Homo sapiens: one gene and its partner. The protein of the gene in region 2 purifies or fractionates together with the protein of the main gene of each other region. This does not show direct contact. Each region holds a gene or a part of one and is shown on either strand. Other genes may lie near its edges.

What was found.
Region 1: the proteins of OSTF1 (region 2) and ADI1 purify together in Homo sapiens (affinity purification with mass spectrometry; one large-scale study listed by BioGRID and IntAct). This does not show direct contact.

The regions. Positions count from the first base shown.
Region 1 is NC_000002.12:3,499,568-3,502,554, forward strand, and holds part of ADI1 (acireductone dioxygenase), read right to left. Parts: intron 1,427-2,987; coding exon 1,247-1,426; intron 1-1,246. UniProt on the Homo sapiens protein: Catalyzes 2 different reactions between oxygen and the acireductone 1,2-dihydroxy-3-keto-5-methylthiopentene (DHK-MTPene) depending upon the metal bound in the active site.
Region 2 is NC_000009.12:75,091,483-75,095,136, reverse strand, and holds part of OSTF1 (osteoclast-stimulating factor 1), read right to left. Parts: intron 1-3,654.

The sequences.
Region 1 (2,987 bases), on a different chromosome or scaffold from region 2:
ACACAGAAGTGCAAAATGACAAGCATGTAAGGGTATTTATTACAGCCCTGTTCACAAGAGCAAAAAATTGAGAACAATGTATATACTCATTGTTGGGGGTCAATGACTCACTGAAATAAATTAATGGTTAAATACAGTACAGCATGTCCAGCGCCAGAGTACTGTGCAGCTGTAATCAGGGCTGAGGCTTGTAGACACTGAAATGAAACAGTCCCCAGTGAACATCATGTAGAAAAAAGTAAAATGTAGAACCATGGGAGGCCAAGGTGGGTGGATCACCTGAGGTCAGGAGTTTGAGACCAGCCTGGCCAACATGGTGAAACCCCGTCTCTACTAAAAACACAAAAATTAGCCGGGCGTGGTGGTGTGCCCCAGTAATCCCAGCTACTCAGGAGGCTGAGGCAGGAGAATCGCTTGAGCTTGGGAGGTGGAGGTTGCATTGAGCCGAGATCAAGCCACTACATGCCAGCCTGGGCGACAAAGTGAGACTCCATCTCAAAGAAAAAAAAAAAAAAAAGAATCCTGACTGACATGCACTTGGATATGTGTAAAGTCACTCTAAAAATAATTTTTTTAGTGGAATACTGGTTACTTTCAGGGAGAGAAACTGGGAGGCTGGGAACAGGGGTCAGAGGGAGACCTTTCACCAGGTCCCCTTTCATATTTCTAAATTTTAAACCATGTGCATTTAGTATTTATTCAAAAATTACCCTTAAATCAGCATTACCCCAATCGCCTCCAGTGAACCCCAAAACTACCTTATCTGTGTTTATTGCCAATCCTGACTGGACTGCGTTACTGTTCAATTCCAAAACTGAAATGTTTTTAAAAGTGACAGTATGGCAACATAACAACCCTACAGGCGCCTCACCACCAAACACGGGCTGGGGTGACAACCCTAGAGATGCCTCACCGCCAAGCAAGGGCTGGGGCAGGGCCAGGCTCGTGGGTGTGTACCTGCCGCCGCATGTACCTGCCGCCGCCTGTACCTGCCCCGCCTGGGTATGAAATGCACACCTGTCCACCAGGATCGCAGGCAGGGGCCACGGAGGCTGCCACGGAAGGACAGCTGTCACCTCGGACATCGCCTGCGGCTCCACAGACTCTCCTTGAAGCACAGGTCGAGGAGTCCCGAGCCCAGCGACCGCGCTTGGAGTCTGCGGAAGCCGCGCAGTTCAGCGGCAGAGATGCCACGGCCAGGGCCACCACACAGGCCGGGCCTGGGGAGAAAGCACAGCACTCCCACCTTCTCGTCCACCGTGAAGCGGTGATAGATCCCCGCGGGGAGCGTCACCATGTCTCCCTTCTCCATGAAGATCCGGATCCACTGGTCCTCCTTGTCCCTCACATCGAAGTACCCACTGCCATCCAGGATGTAGCGGATCTCATCGTCCAAGTGCAAATGCTCCTCGTAGAACATCTTAATCTAGTGCAGAAGGAACATTCCTGTGAGTCTACCAGAGACCTGTCACGCAAGCTCACACCCACCCACTCAGCAGCCTGAGCCTTTGGTGGGCCAGAGCTGAGGTGAATGGGACTTCTCTCCATAAAAATGAAACTACACTTGCTAAGAATTATTTTCCTAACAGTACAAGGGCCAGAGCTAGAATATTTTATGAAACCTGTCAACAAATGGGCAGTAACTGAAAGTGAACAGACCTGAAGCAAAGGTTCTGAACACTTCACACAGGCCAACTCACCCAACCCGCACGGCCCCACGAGGTGGCTGCTCTATCAGCCCCGTTTTACAGATGTGGAAATGGTGGCACAGAGAGGCTAAGTCACTGGCCCAACCTCACACAACGAGACTGCCCCAAAGACACCCTGGCCCCATGCTCACACCCACCCAGTGTGCTGCACACAGCAGTCATGAAATCACAACACACAGGGTGAGTGAGAAGCCAGTGGACATTGCAGGGAGGCAGGCACAGACTCCACAAGCATTTTCTATGTCTTCACATTGACTTTTGTGTATTTTTTTTTTTAGGTGGAGTCTCGCTCTGTTGCCCAGGCTGGAGTGCAGTGGCACAATCTCAGCTCACTGCAACCTCCGCCTCCCCGATTCAAGCGATTCTCGTGCCTCCCAAGTAGCTGGGATTACAGGTACCTACCACTATACCCAGCTAATTTTTGTATTCTCAGTAGAGATGGGGTTTCAACATGTTGGCCAGGCTGGTCTCAAACTCCTGACCTCAGGTCATCCACCTGCCTCGGCCTCCCACAGTGCTGGGATTCCAGGTGGAAGCCACCACGCCTGGTCTGACTTTTGTGTCTTTCTGAAAGTGTTTTCTTCCTAATATTTTATAATAAAAATATTCAAGTATGCAAAAACATTGAGAGTATTTTACAGTAAATATCCATACCCCCTTCACCAAGACTGTGCCCTTATAATCTGATTCTGCCTGCACTGTTCATATCTCCACACCTCCCGCTCCACACACACACACACACACACACACACACACACACACACACAGAGACAGGGTTTCACTCTGTTGCTCAGGCTGGAGTGCAGGGGCACAATCATGACTCACTACAGCCTCAAACTCTGGGGCTCAAGAGATCCTCCTGCCTCAGCCTTCCCAGTAGCTGGGACTACAGGCGTGCACTACCATACCTGGCTAATTTTTTAAAAAAATTTTTTCTAGAGACAGGGTCTTATTATGTTGCCCAGGCTAGTCTCAAACTCCAGGCCTCAAGTGATCCTCCTGCCTTGGCCTCCCAAAGCACTGGGATTACAGGCATGAGCCACTGCCCCCAGCCTACCTTGTTATGTGTTACAAAATCATAAATAAAATGAAAACAAGATTAGGAGGAAAACCTTAAATTTGAAATCAGTCTATTCATAGCCACACAGAAAGAAAAGACAAACGGAAATAGCTCTTTTTTTTTTTTTTTTTTTGAGACGGAATTTCACTCTTGTTGCCCAGGCTGGAGTGCAATGGCGCGATCTCGGCTCACTTCAACCTCCGCCTCCCAGGTTCAAG
Region 2 (3,654 bases):
TTAGGGTCTGGTTAAATGAGCTCAGCAGAATACTATGTAGTTATTTAAAAGAACCAGGAAGTTCTCCTGGTTCTAATATTTGTGTTGTATTGTTTGTTTGTTTATTTGAGACAGGGTCTCGCTCTGTCACCCAGGCTGGAGTGCAGTGGCACGATCTTGGCCTCCCAGGCTCAAGTGATCCTCCCACCTCAGTCTCCTAAGTAGCAGGGACTACAAACACGCACCACCAAGCCCAGCTAATTTTTTCATATTTGTTGTACAGAAAAGGTTTCACCATGTTGCCCAGGCTGGTCTCAAACTCCTAGGCTCAAGCAATCTGCCTGCCTGGGCCTCCCAAAGTGCCAGGATTACAGGTGTGAACCACTGTGCCTGGCCTGTACATTTTTCTGAAACTCCTTTAATTTGATAAGAGAATCTTGACACCTCACTCATATCAGCCCACTGAAAGGTGTCCCTGTATCATTTTTTTTTTAATGTAGTCTTTCCCTGTCCATTAAGCAAGTGAGGACAACTTTGGCAATGGGTTCTGTTATGCCCTGAGGTATAAGGTGTGTATTAGAAAATCTCACTGCACTAGTCACGTAAGTCAAATTGTGGGAATGCTGAAACGCCAAGGGAGGGGACCCCAGTATTTCCAGAAGGGAGGAATGCTTATCAGAAGCACATAACCTCCAGCCTTTGCTACTTTGTAGTAAAGCTACAAGAAAAGCCCAATCACAGTCTCTGAGTCCACCCCCACCTTCTTTCAGGGAAAAAAAAAAAAACCCACCTTTTTTTTGTATCAAAGCGTTTTACATTATCTGTCATTCATAACGATTTAGTGGCTGTGCAGTTACAAAGAAATAAAAGACTGTTCCACTCTCAAAAAGTGCATAGTTTAATGCTCTAATACGGATCCATTGAAAGAGGGCAGTTACACAAACCAAATACCAATAATACAACTGCATAAGCTAATAAAATGACTGTCCAACAAAAGCAGGTCCAACCCAATAACATCTCTGGCAGGTTTCTCTGCTCATATGCATGGACTCAATTAAAGCTTCTGTTCCACTTCCAGGTCACACCAACCACTCACTAGCTTTGAGATCTTAGATAGTTTACTTGACCTCATTAAGTACTACTTCATCCATAAAACAGGGATATGAGGACCCACCCACCTGATAGGAAAGTCAGAATAATTAAAGGAGACAGAGCATACACAGTGCTGGGTGCAGTGCCTGACATATGGGGCCAAATATATGTTAACCATTCCCATCATCATCATCATTGTGAAATTTTCAAGATGTTTCTCAGGCTTTATTCTGCCAACAGGTATAAAAAGTATCAAGTTTATAAAAGAAGACTATTCACGTGCATATTTCACCTCACTTTTGATTAATTCCTTTGTTGGGGTAAAAAATACATAAAAATTAAGTTCATTTTAGATAAAAACCTTTTTTTCTCAAAAATGTTATTTAAGCAGCATGCGTGTGATGTCTTTTAAGTTTTATGATGTTTTTACTCTGAATAACAAAAAAACCTGAAACACTGACATTTGCTTCTTCAAAGTTCCATGAATTTATTTTCACAAGGCACATGAAATATTTATGCTTTACTTTCACCACCAAAATCAATAAGCCATTTGGAAAAAATGGCCAAGGTCAGACACCAGGTTTCCAACTACAATAGATAGTTACCAAACCTGCTTAGAATGAGATGATTCTACAGCCCAAATCTCATTCAGTATCCTTTGGCCCATTCTTACTCTCAGAATAAAATATTTTTAAAAAGATTTTACAAGAACAAAAGTTCTGTTTTCTACACTTCTACACTCTAACAAGCCAGACAGATTCACGCTAATTGAACTGCAAGGCTTCTGAGAGTGGCTGAAAACAACATAAATGCTATATGTGTAAAACTAAGAGGTTGTACTCATTCAGAAAAAGGAAAGGAGGGTCTCAGCCAGGTTTGGTGGTGAGCATCTATAATTCCAGATACTCTGGAAGCTCAGGAAGGAAGAAGACTGCTTGAGCACAGGAGAGCAAGACCAGCCTGGTCAACATAGCAAAATCCCATCTCCAAAAAAAAAAAAAGAAAGAAAGAAAGAGAGAGAGAGAAAGAAAGAAAGAAAGAGGGTATCATAAAGAATGAGCTGAAGACCACGAAATTGCAACACATCTTAGTAGAGTACCATGGTGGCACAGATAACAGTTAAGGGAGAAAGTTTCAATGACAGACCTTGTGTGGCCAAAAGTGATTCTACAGAAACAAAATCAGTAAGCAAGGAAAGGTCAAACTGCGACAGAATTGATTTTTCAAGCAGAATGCAGGCAATACCGTATAGCCTTTTGGAAACATATGCCAACCAACAGCAAGACTTTTCAAACGGAAGCTGAGACGCTGTTCTGAGGGTAATTGTTTTTATTTTCTTTTTTGAAATGAAATGGATGTGAAGAAGAAAGAAACCTGAAAGAATATTCAACCAAATGTAAATAGTGATTATCAGTAGATGACAGGGATGATTCCTATATTTTAGTTATATATTTATTGTTTACCTTTTTCTAAATTTTCTAAAAATAAAAAAATTATATTTTTACTTACAAGCTTTTTTAAAAAAAACAAAATGAATGAGATCAGCCATCCACTTGTAAATATGGGATACTCTAGGTAATATCTGTAGATACATACGTCTTCCCCATTAGACTCAGGACCCTCGTGAATGACACCATAGATTATTGTTCCTGGGAACCCCAGTGTCTAGCACAGGGCCTAATATATGAGCTACATTTATTAAGAAACATTTGTTTAGCAAATGAATTCTGGATATGGCCAAAAACCCAAACAAGGTAACCCTGATCTATCCTCCAGATGGTACAAAAATGGCCAGGGTCTCCCACTAGCATCTGCCCGGGACTTCCCTGGGCAGCCTCCTTCCACAAATCGGCCCCCTGTTGGGGATGTGCTGATCAGCCAGAAAGATGCTATTAGCCTGCATTATAGCTTAATGTCCCTTGTTTTTAATATCTTCCAGCAAGTCCTTTGTCCTTACTCACCTAGCTCCTTTCCTTTTAGTATTGTCTACTGAATTGAGCCATGCTGTTTTGCCCAAATCTTGCTCTGAAAGAAGCTGTAAGAAACATGGCTAGGATGTTCTGTCTTGTATTTCTGCTAGAGATATCCAGGCCACTCCAATACTTTAAGAGAACCCACAGGAAAATCTGTCTCAGATCTCAATGCCATTAAAATAACTACTTTTCAGAGTAAGTGACACATTTTAATTTTATGAGCACTATGAATCTTGAGATTTTTCTCTCTGCTTGCAGCTGAGAGCCAAATCTACAGTGACCTTACTACACATGCAGGTCTGTCTGTAAGCTAGCTTTTCCTCTTGTTTCATCTTACTATTCTTCCCTTCCTCTAGATGACCATGCTTTATCTTTACTTTTTCCTCTCTCTCAGATCATGTGTATTTTTAGAAGTCCTTTTGGAATGAGGCAAGGTTTAAACAAACCAAAAAATTAAATACAACCCCAAAGCCCCCAATCCCATGCTGTCTTTGGAGATTTTTATCCATGCAGCTTGCCTGCAGGACAAGAAAGTAAAGCTCCACACCACTCTCCTTGCTGTCAACCAGGGGCTGACCTTTATGTGCATTTGTGACAAGAAAGTCTGTAG